Regions from separate parts of the Homo sapiens genome. Here region 2 is linked to region 1. The links come from fine-mapping of genetic effects on gene expression. Tissue or cell type: whole blood. Region 1 holds a variant in brackets; the other region holds the start of a gene. All regions are shown on one strand. Distances are from middle to middle.

The links. PIP is the estimated chance that this variant, and not a neighbour inherited with it, causes the effect.
Region 2: ERC1 starts here. The variant in region 1 is fine-mapped to the expression of ERC1 in whole blood (INTERVAL, PIP above 0.99).

The regions. Positions count from the first base shown.
Region 1 is chr12:1,492,284-1,498,031 of GRCh38, forward strand. It overlaps ERC1 (ELKS/RAB6-interacting/CAST family member 1), which reads left to right. Exons shown (of 19, transcript NM_178040.4): 19 at 1-3,648. Among named protein-coding and RNA genes, the nearest start is that of LINC00942, 5.3 kb to the right of the region's middle. The variant C/T (reference allele first, on the strand shown) is at 2,618.
Region 2 is chr12:988,950-994,697 of GRCh38, forward strand. It overlaps ERC1 (ELKS/RAB6-interacting/CAST family member 1), which reads left to right and starts at 2,274. Exons shown (of 19, transcript NM_178040.4): 1 at 2,274-2,373. It also overlaps a transcript of RAD52 not described here. RefSeq lists enhancers at 1,105-1,667, 2,229-2,790 and silencers at 1,489-1,538, 1,949-2,058, 2,079-2,588, 2,794-3,088.

The DNA.
Region 1 (5,748 bases):
TGCAGTGCCCGTAAACCATGTAGAAAGCTCCCAGCACTGAAAGGCAGGAGTGTTAGCATCTCGCTTTATCCACCATAACGTAAAGAACTGCGGTGTGATAACAGCCTTCACGGGGCCACGGTGGAACCAAGACAGCAGGCGAGGCCATGCCTAAACAAGTGGTCTGGCACGGGCACTGGCCAGCTGCTCTCTCCAAGCAGGTGGCCCAGATCCCACCCACGTGGACTTTCTCATCAGGTGCAGCGCCTGCCACTCTCAGCCACTGGGTGTGTCACTCTCCTCTTCATCTCAGCATTCTCCATCACTTCCCCTCCAGAAAAACGGATGGAAGGAAGCCCTCTGTGACACTGCTTCTGAGAAGAAGCATTTCCGGGACCGATATCATCTGTCTGGTCTCTGTGAACAGCAAGGAATCTTCTTGACCGTTCTTGGGCACTGGAGGCTGGCTAGGAGTTCAGTAATAAACGTGGCCTTCGTGCTGTAGGGCAGAGTGGATGCAGTTTGTAGCTTTCAGAGTGTCTCATTGAGTCTAGATCATTGAACCAACACTTAACCAAATGTCCCACTCCCATCACACTAGGACTTGTCATTCCATGCCCCTCTCCTAGTGGTCATGGTTTCATATGGGCATACAACTGCTACTGAAGTTATATAGCCTTGAAAACTCAGTGCAGGTTGCCCTTAATTTTCCCCAAACCCCTCCATCGGCAAGTCTAGTTGCCCTTTAGCACCTAAAGATCTGCACCCCAAACCAATGTCACCATAAAGAGGGCACGAAGAAGAGTGGGTGTGATCCCAACGGGGTTTTGTAACTGAAGAAGCCCAGTGTGAGCTTCTCATCTTTTCATATACCTCTAACCCCCGGTACTCATTGAATCATTGATGAGGTATCTCAATTGAGATTTGCAAGGACTTTGATACCATTTGAAATGGAAAAATTTTGAACGGGCTTTAACATGTTTAAGAAATATGGATGGGGCCGGCCACAGTGGCTCACGCCTGTAATCCCAGAACTCTGGAAGGCTGAGGCAGGCGGATCACCTGAGATCAGGAGTTCGAGGCCAGCCTGGCCAAGATGGCAAAAACCCCGACTCTACTAAAAATACAAAATTAGCCAGGCGTGGTGGCGTACGCCTGTAATCCCAGCTACTCAGGAGGCAGGAGAATCGCTTGAGCCTGGGAGGCAGAGGCTGCGGTGAGCCGAGATCGTGTCACTGCACTCCAGCCTGGGTGACAGAGACTCCATTTAAAAAAAAAAAAAAAAAATATATATATATATATATATATATATATATGGATGGGAATCACCAAATTCATCTCAGCTCTAACCTTTTAACCTTTGTCCTTGCACTTTACAATCTAAAGATCTACCTGTGGCTCTCAGACTTCCTCACACTTGGGTTTTAGAAATAACTTGTAAAGCAGACTGGACCCAAGGCCGCCTTCAGTGTCAAGAAGGGCATTGTGACTTGCCCCTCAATTTCTGTCCATTGAAGTCTGGTTTTCCATGAGGAACTTGCGGGCTCACCCACCCCCAGAGTGAGAGAAGAGGAAGGCGAAGTCATCACAGACACGGTCTTAGCCACCTGCTGAACTAATCCCTCCGCTATTGAGGGTCAGGGTTGTGAGGCAACCATCATGTGTCACCCCAAAATATAAATGTTTCTGAGCCGCCCATCCACTGGCATTTGGATTTGCTGCCAGAGTCCTGTTCCTCCCAGAACCATCCCGCCCTCCTGTTGACCATGTTACTTGAGTGTAGGCCCGGTGTCAAGACCCTCAGAGTCTTTGAGGAAAGAGCCAAGCAGAGAAGACCGCTGCGTGGAGTGTGACACCACATGGCATTTCTCAAGCCCAGCGGACCCTGTGTCAGCAAATACCAGTAATTTAACATCTGCTCCTGGCCTCCTCTTCACCTGCCTGGGTTCGGAACTGAGGAGGAAGGATGAGAAGAGACTGCAATGCAGCAGGCACCCTCTGCAGAGTGAGGCCGCCCGTCCATCACTGCCAGCCCTGGGCTGCTCAGGAGGGGACGTGAACCACTCAAAGGAATGTCTTAAAGAGGATCTGGAGTTTCCCCCATGCAAATTAGGGAAGAATTAGGCAAGAAAAGACATACATTACAGGGAAATCCTTCTGAACAAAATGGCTGTCTTCACCTACTCTTCTTGCAAGAAAAGACATACATTACAGGGAAATCCTTCTGAACAAAATGGCTATCTTCACCTACTCTTCAGCAAAAACCGTCTCCAGACTTTTTAGTGTCAAAAATGTAACCAACTGTCTCCTGATTTTTTCCAATGTGTTTGGCAAGTGCTGTGGCCCTGTTGTAGGTACTTCTCCTGACTCTTGGGGGAGAAGTGGTTTTAGGGATTGATTTGGGGGAGCGGGTTTTTGTCCCATCCCACCTCCTCTCTTCTTTCTCTGCTTGTCGATATTGTCTGTGTGATTCAGAGAATTGGGGCAGTTACATTGTGTCTGTTGTTGAGATTATTAAAAGATTAAAACGTAGTTGTAGAAATGAAAAATTAAACAGCTGTGTTTTAAAAATGCAAACCAATATCTTGTTAATAAAGGAATTCAAGCTATGGGGCAGCCACACTCCCCTCCTCCCAGG[C/T]TGGCATAGGTGGCCCTGGGCTGGCGGCTTAGGAAGCATGGAGCACACTTAGGGTAGTGCCTGCCTGGGCAAGAGACACCTGCCGAGCAAAAGGAACGAGAATCTGGGGCTCAGAGCCTCGCAGTTGTGCCAGGATTTTCCTATACATGTTCAGGACCTCTGGGTAGAGGTTTCACAGTTTGTGACCCCATAACCACCCTCACCCGACGTGGGTTCTAGCTCAGTGTGCCTAATACTGCATGGTAACCTGGGCTTGACCCTGAAGCCCCTGCCTGGCAGGCCACAGGACCTCTCCTGCCCACTTGGTGCTATCTCTTCCAGTGACCACCCAGCACGGGTGAGCACTGGCCAGCCTGGAGCCTGCAATCCAGGTGGAACAGACTGTCCTCCATGTCAGTTCCTTCTGGCTTCAGGCCCTCAATTATTTCCCTTTGAGCTTTTTTAGACCCTAGATCTCCTAGGCCCAGGCTCTCTCTTGACCCCAGAGAAGCCACTGTCAGGAAAGGAAGTGAACCCTACTGAAGCCAGAGAATTCACCCCGGCCAAAGCAGGCCCTCTGGGTCCAGCCCCTCATTCCACACCACGCCAGTATTGCATCCATCTACTGCAGCTACACATCCTGAGGGCAGCACCACCCACTCTGGCCTGCTGGCCCATCGCAGGACTAGCCCAGGCACCTGCCGGGCATTGCAGGATATCCAGTGGGGCCTGTGACTGCTCCCTGATGCGTCAGAAGAGAAGTGTTGCACTTTAGTGGAGGAGCTGAGGAGCACCTGCCCCCTTGTAGCTTGAGTTCCTTTTGGTAACAGTAGCAGCCTCCATGGTGGTGTCTGGGATGCACGTGCACCCGCTGCCTTCAGCTGTATGTGTGTGTTCCTGCTGGAGTTGTGTTACTGACAGGATAATGACATTACAAAGAAATTGTGTTATATTCAACTTTGCCTTGATAATTATTGTAAACACTTTGTTCATTTTTTCTTTTTTATTCACAAACTAAATCCACCAGGAAATTATAAAGTTATTTAAAAACCGTGCTGTGTCCTTCTTTGAGTGTCACCCAGCTGATCATCCAGGCAAGGTGTGTCCCCAAATGCTAGAAAAGATGGACAAGGTCTGCAGTGCCCAAGAGGCCAACTCCAATGGCAGGCAGCCCGAGGGCCAGGGGTCCCAGGATTTACGGTGGGTGTGGGAGTCATCACAGCCCTGACGGGCATGAGCCTCCTTTCCCTTCCCGCCTGATCTCCGGGTTTGCAGCTTTTAAAGTCAATTCCCGGTTCCCTTTTTCCTTCTTTCTACCCTCAGCCCCGGGCCAGGTTATCCGTATCAGGTCTCACTGTTCCAGAGCTTAGAGTAGGTGCCCAGCGCTGAGGGATGGTGCTGCTGTTGTACCAAGGTAGAAGAGCCAGAAGGGCGGCCACCAAGGGAGGGCTTTGCCCAGGACTGGGACTCAAGCTTCAGCAGGGCGCGTTCTGATGCACTGACTCTGGGGCGTGCAGGCTGGGTCAACAGAAAGTGTGTGTGCCAAGAGTAAAAGGAGCCGAGAAACCCTGTGCTTGGACGCGGCTGTCATTTCCAGCTTTGGGATTTGTCTTGGGCTTTATGCTCAATAAGAAATTATTCTGGAGGATTTCTTTTATGAGAATTACTTTTCTGCTTAGCCACACTTCTGTGTCTGCCCGAGAGAGGAATCAAGCCAGCTTGCTGCATTCCTTCCCTCTCCCGTGTAAATTCTGCCACACGCTGGGTGTTGGCTCTTGGGAATTGTAGCAAGAGAGTCCAAACTCGTTCTTCCCGGTCGGCCCTCCCAGTGCCCAGGTCCCACCCTGGCCTCGCTCTCTGCAGCCACAGCAGCTGTTGGGAAGCTCTGCCAGGGGAGACGTGCCCGGGAGACAGGGCGCTGTGGACACGGCTGCAGGGCTGAGGTTGCTTGTACTTTCATCATATGAAGCAGGAACAATTTTACTAGCCGAGCATGTATTATTCTGCACAATATAAAATCACAACCACAAGCAAATGTGTCCACAGAAAGCTGTCAGATTACACTGGTCAGCTGTTTCCAAGGTTTCCCATTCATCTTTTTTACTATTTATTCACCCTGCATTCTACCAGTGCCCAGTTGCAGGCAAGTGGACACCGACAATAGATTTAAAGAAAATATGTGAAAACTTTTAAGAATTCCATCCATTAATTTTTTTTCGGAACTGAGAGAAGATAACTAGTACTTTATTTTTGAGGTGGAATATCTCAGGCTGGCTCAAAAATGATTAGGAGCTACTTAGGGACTGGGTGCTGTAGCTGAAACCTTTAATCCCAACACTTTGGGAGGCCAAGGTGGGAAGATCACTTGAGGCGAGGAGTTCGAGACCAGCCTGGACAACATAGTGAGACCTCTCTCGTTACAATAAATTAAAAATTTAGCAGGGCATGGTGGCATGTGCCTATAGTCCCAGCTGCTTTGGAGGCTGAGGCAAGAGGATGACTTGAGCCCAGGAGATGGAGGCTGCAGTGAGCTGCAGTGATCACACCACTGCACTCCAGCCTAGAGGTGCAGAGAGAAACCCTGTCTCAAAAAAAATAAATAGGCTCTGGGGCTGGGGGGAAGCTGGTGTGAGGTTTGTGAGCCTTCCCAGGTGTCCTGGAAAGGGCCCAGACTCGCAGACTGCAGCCCTGGGCTGCCGCTTGACCTCCCAGCCTCTTCTTCACCTCTGAAAGAATGCCTCCTTCATCCCTGTCCCCAGCCTAGGTCATAATGAAGGTGCCGTAGGATAATCTTTTTCCTTTTTGAAATTTTCTTTACAGAGCATAAATTGCTTTCTTAACATCTGCGATTCACTTAAAAATAATCAAGCATGTCTGTCGGGGAGGAGCAAGGGCGTGGAGACAAAAGATGGGCCAGAGGTCGGTAATTATGAAGCTGGGGAACTGCGTGCATGGGGTTTGTAAGTCCATTCTCCTTATTCTTGTGTTTGAATGTTTCCTGAATCAGTTAAATATTCACATCCTTCAACTGTACTTGCCCATACAGGCCTCTTCCTCCGAAGATCCAAGCACTCTGCATTCACAAAGGGCCACCGTAGCGCTCCGTTCAGAATTTGTACTTCCCTGTGTTCTAGACTCCAGGCTACAAATAA
Region 2 (5,748 bases), 500 kb before region 1:
TCCTGCCAACTTGCCCAACTACACTTTAAAGTGGGTGGGTAGGAAACCAGCTATTGTGCTAGAATAAAGAATACTTTACTCTTAGGCCCTTCAATACTCAGTTAACCCAAATCTCCCCAGATTATCAGAGTGCTTAATTTTAGCCTGGATAAATGCCTAGATATTGTATCTGAGATATAGGGAGGGTTCTGCTCTTCCTTATATAGACCTTTATTTAGTCTCCCTGGTCTCAACTCTGCTTCTCACTCTTGCTCTGTCTGGTAGTTATCTCCAAATCTCCGTCTCCCTAAAGCACTTCTGGGCTGACAGGTCCCCTTCCTTTCTACAGCACCCTCTACACCCATTCTACATTATGCTTTTCTCCATTTTATTTTGTCAGACCACACTTACTTTTTGCATGTCAAATAAAAAAAAATTATCTTCCGATGTCCCCCTTCTCATTTTCTATTTTGTATCACTTTTATTTATCATCATTTTATGGGGTCTCAGGAAGAAGAGACAGTAAATACATGTGCTCGGTTAGCTAGCTTTAATCAAAAATCCTAAACGTAGGTTTTAAAAAAGATAACTGGAGCAGGGCAGGAAATAATATTTTTTGCCAGTGTGGTGGCAAAAAATAAAAAACAAAAATCTGAATCTGTGTTAGGACAGTATTTCCGTGTATAACATAGCGCTTAGCAACTTAATTCTCCAGATCCACATATTTTAAGGACATGATGTATCTCAGACACCTACTTCAAACCTCACTTTACAGTTAAGTAAGACCACAAGTAGAATGAATTGCCTGAGGCCACACAAGTAGACAGTGGGAGAATGAGAACAGAAATATCTATTGACTCCTAGTTGAATTTTCTCTTACCTTACCACACTGCTAGGGAGTAACAAGATGGGCAGATCACGAGTCAGATGAGAAAGGTCATGAAAAATAGTCAAAGGATGACTTTTCCTGGGTAAATAGCCGGATGTCCAAGAAATGAAAGGCTGGTCTGGCAGCAGCACATCGTCTAACAGTTGGTAGTCATATGTGGGAAGTACTGAAGGGGGAGATGACAGCAGGCCCAGAAACTGCAATGATCCAAGTGCATGTCGATCCTGGGAGGGAACAGTTAAGAGTCCGGGCAGGATGAAACAGTAGAAACTGGTGAGTGAATGAATGTGAAGGCTGAGGAGCGACTGCAATTTGTTAATGGGATTATGAGGCAGTATAAAGTGGTTAATTACGGTGGCGGAGGTAAGCAGGAGTAAAATGATGGCTTTTAACTCCTCTCAAGGACACCGAAAATTATTTTAATAAACACTGGAAGGCTGGGAATAAATATAATTCACACCATTCTTACTTTCTTGGTTTAGAGATAGCTTATCTACATCCTTAAATTAATGGCTGTAGCTACCCTCTGCATGGCTCCAAAAAAAAAACAAAAAACAAAAAACAAAACCAAAGCCGGCTGCGAGTCTGCACGAGAAAATCGGGTTGCACCAGGCCCCAGCCGCCCGCCGATTCGCTTAGCTGTCGGAGGCTAAATAAACAGCTCCCGAAGCAGCGTTTGGCACAGCGCAGGGTCGGAACGTGGACACTAATTTCCGCCCACGCTCCCCGCGTCCTGGCGGGATCACCACAGACACGACGTCCATTGCTGGGGTCCTCGGCGATGCCCGTGTGCGCAGCCCCGCGAGTCTCAGGTCAGAAGACCACTAATTTCGCGGCCGCGTTCCACGAAGCTAAGGGGCAAAAAACCAGCTTTCTTGGGACAAAGCGTCCCCCCAGCAGCCAGGGTCGATCCCGGCGCTGCTCCCGCGGCGCTTGGCTGCCCCGGGCGTAACGGGCCACGAGAAGTAGGGGGTGGGGCGCCGCTTAGGTTTGGGAAGACACGAAGCGGCTCCTCGGGCTTCCAGCGTCCACTTCCTACGGCAAGCAGGAGGAGACAAGCGCCACCCTGCGCTCGCGGAGCCGACCCCGGCTCTCCCCTCCCGTGGCCGCAGGGGTCGTGTGTGTGTGTGTGTGAGTGTGTGTGTGTGTGCAGGGACGCTCCGCGCCCATCACTCTGTTTCGGTGCTAATCGACCGCCGTGGCGCCGATTTCCCCCGCTTCCCAGTTCCTCACCCGCGTGCCCCGGAAGGCGCCCGGAGGCCCCCGGGCCGCCGCGTCACGCTCCCGGGAGGCTGAGGGAAAGGGAGGCAGCCGAGCCGGGAGCCCGGGGAGGCGCGCTGCGCCCCGCGGCGGGGCTGGGGGCGGGGCTAGGTGTCTCGCGCAGGGGGCGGGGCGCGGTGACGTCGCGGGCGCCTGGGCCGTGCTGTGGCGGCGGCGGCGGCGGTAGTGGCGGCGGCGGCGGTGCCTGGGCGGCAGCAGCAGCAGTAGCGGCAGCCCTGAGGACGGTGAGACGGCCGCGGCGGCGGCGACAGCGCGGAAGTCGCGCGGGACCCAGAGCTTCCCCCCTGTCGCTAGTGCTGAGGCTTTCGCCTTTCCTACCCAGCTTCTTGCTCACGGCCCGGGCTGGGCTGGGCAGGGCAACGCGCCCCCGGGGAGGGGCGGAGCTGTAGGTGAGGCTTCGCGACCCCCTCCCCCTCCTCGGCAGCCCGGGGGGTGGGGAGGGGCGGGCCCCACCCAGACCACCGGCGCCCACCCGCGGGCTCCACCCAGCCGGGCTCCGGGATCGGGCGGGAGCCGAGGCGGTAGATGTGGGGATCCTGGGGCGGGAGGTGGGGGAGTGGGGACTGGGGCTCTGGGCACTTGGGGAGCGGAGGGGGGGAGGCTTAGGACTAGTGAAGCCGCGGACGAGGTAGTGGGGAGACGGAGAAATTGGGGAGCCATGAGGTTGGGGTGCGGTCAGGGTGGATCTTTGGGTTAGGTGAGTGATGTAAAATGCTGAAGATGATTCTTTTCTTTTCGATGAAATGGTGAGATAAAAGATGAAGTGTATTTCAAAAGGACGATGAGCTGTGCATGTTGCCTTTGAGGCAGTTGCAGAACCTATTTTATTGCACTAGATCTCACGTTTCTACTTTAGGGTTCGATTCTTTTTCTTCTGGCGGGGTGGGTGGGGGGTCGGAGAGGGAAGAGAATCCCCTTACTTTGGCTCAGGTAAATTGTGAGCGTGGATGTATCTGAAAGTTTTACACCGAAGAAGAGGGAGATCTTCGGTTTAGACAACTTCGTTCCGGCAGCCACCATTTGGGTCGCATTACGCTTAGCTCCTTCAAGGTGGTGTCTTCCAGTTTTTTTTCCCCCCAATGCCTAAAAGATCTCTTTATACCACCCTTTTACAGGCTTTATCCTGGCCCCTTGAGAGAAGGCCCCAAACTCAGGTGGTTGCTTTGGAAGGCACATTGCTGAATAATAGTTGCAGGTGGTTGTGGTTGACTGCTTTGGGTGGATAAAGTGAACAATTGGAATAGTTCTGTTGGAGCTAATTATATGAAAAATGCTTAAATGTTTTAAAGTACAACCGTCTTTTATAGCGTGTTGCTTGCTCAGTACACCTTGACTTTTAGACATTTTGTGTTCAGTGCTAAATTGTTGAAATTTTATTTCTCATTTGCAGTTATGTTTCTTGCAGTCTTTATTAAAACACTTTAAAATGAAATGGAACTCTTTTTTTTTGGTAGGCTCCTCAATTTCTGAGAAATGTTCTTGGAGTCAAGTGCTTTAAAAACATTTTGGGGGCAGGTGTGTCACTTTGTATGGAAATATTAGAGTAAGCAGTGTTCAATGTTCTTCACATCACTCTTTCACAACTTAGCACTGTAAATCAGAATCTTCTTTTCTGGATTCTTGCTCCCTGTTAGATTACAGTATTCTCTGGCCCTACTTATCAGTTAGTGTCATTTAAGCTATTTCTTGTTCAGAAAACAGGTCCCATGATGGACATGTATTATGTAATGGATGGAAGTAGACATGGCTCTCAATAATTCATTTATGGAGGAAGAGAAGCTGTCAGAAAGTGGGATTTAAGCAGTGACTTTCCCAAGGCTTGCCTAGTTTATTTGGGAAAATAGCCAGAGAAGTGCTTTCTTGTAACCCAAAAGAGAAATATACAGATAAGAATTTCAGTAGTTGCAGATCGTTGCTTTTTCTAAGTGCCTACTTAATGAGCAGATTATTGTCTTCCAGCAAATACTTCTACTTTATAGAGAGGTATGGGAAACAGGACATAATAGGTATTAAGTGAGAAAGTGTGTGTTCCAATTTTTAATTATAAATAAAAGATTTAATTAACTGTATTCAGTTAATTCATTTGGTAAAGTGAACAGTTTTGACTTTGGATTAGTTAGAAGGAAAACAAAATTGACATATCTAGTTTTCGCTTTTAAATTATACATAGACTTAATTAATTGGGACAAATGTGAACTAAGATACTGGGTAAAACTTGTGTGTACTCCTAAAATGACATTTGCATGGCTGGTAGTAAGCTGTGATTCTTGTCCTTGTAGGAATGAAATCACATAATTTGGGGAAAGTCTTAAGGTAAAAGTAAGCTATTTCGTTTAGCATTTCTTGTGCCTGAAATTATGCCTACATTTTATTTTTCAAAAAATGTTGCTTGCTAGTCATTACTTGTGATATCCTTGTTGAGTCTACTGAGGTGTTTTTTTTCCTTCATTACCTGTGTCATAGATAAGTATGCCAGTCTGTTAATTCAACATTAATACTGCAAACTTAAAAGTGAAGGTTCTTGGCCGGGCGCCGTGGCTCATGCCTGTAATCCCAGCACTTTGGGAGGCCGAGGCAGGCGGATCATGAGGTCAGGAGTTCGAGACTAGCCTGGCCAACATGGTGAAACCCTGTCTCTACTAAAAATATAAGAATTAGCTGGGCGTGGTGGCACATGCCTGTAATCCCAGCTACTCAGGAGGCTGAGGCAGAAGAATTGCTTGAGCCTGGGAGGCAGAGGCTGCAGTGAGCCGAGATCATGCCACTGCACTCCAGTCTGGGCTACAGAGCGAGATTCCATCTCAAAAAATAAAAATAAAAATTGGCTGGGTGTGGTGGTGCACACCTGTAACCCCAGCTACTCAGGAAGCTGAGGCAGGAGAATTGCTTGAACCTGGGAGGTGGAGCTTGCAGTGAGCCGAGATTGCACCACTGCACTCCAGCCTGAGTCACGGCAAAACTCCGTCTCAAAAAAAAAAAAAAAAAAAAAAAAAAAAAGTGAAGGTTTTCATAGCAACAGCTGCTCGGTTTTACACTATGTTTACATTTAGAAGTATGAGAGTTGTTAAATGTGTATTTTACACATATTTCATCAGAAACATTAATGGAAAAAGATCAAGAAATGAAGTATTTTGGTTTAAGAATCAGTAGTACATTGATTATCAGTTTTCAGAGACATATAGTAAAATAAACTTAGCATACAGATTATGTGGAATATAATTTGTTTTTTTTTCTTATTTATTTTTTGTGTGTGGAATGTAATTGAAATCTGTTGCTCACCAAGTCTTTCAGTGTACTAGAGTTTGGGTTCTGGGGTCAGAGTGCCTGAGTTCAAATCCTGGCTTTGCCATGGTATGATGTAGGGCAAACTGCTTAATGTTGTTTATTTCCTAACCTTAACCTGTACCTTAATTTCTTCATCTGCAAAATAGAAATAATAACAGTAGTACCTAACCTCTTAAGCTGGTCAAATGAATTAATTCATGTATTTAGAACAGTTTGGGCACATAATTAGCTGGTTCACTAACATCATTTGAAGTTTAACTGTGTATACTATTTTTACTTAATAAGTATATATTAAATACATATTATGTACCACA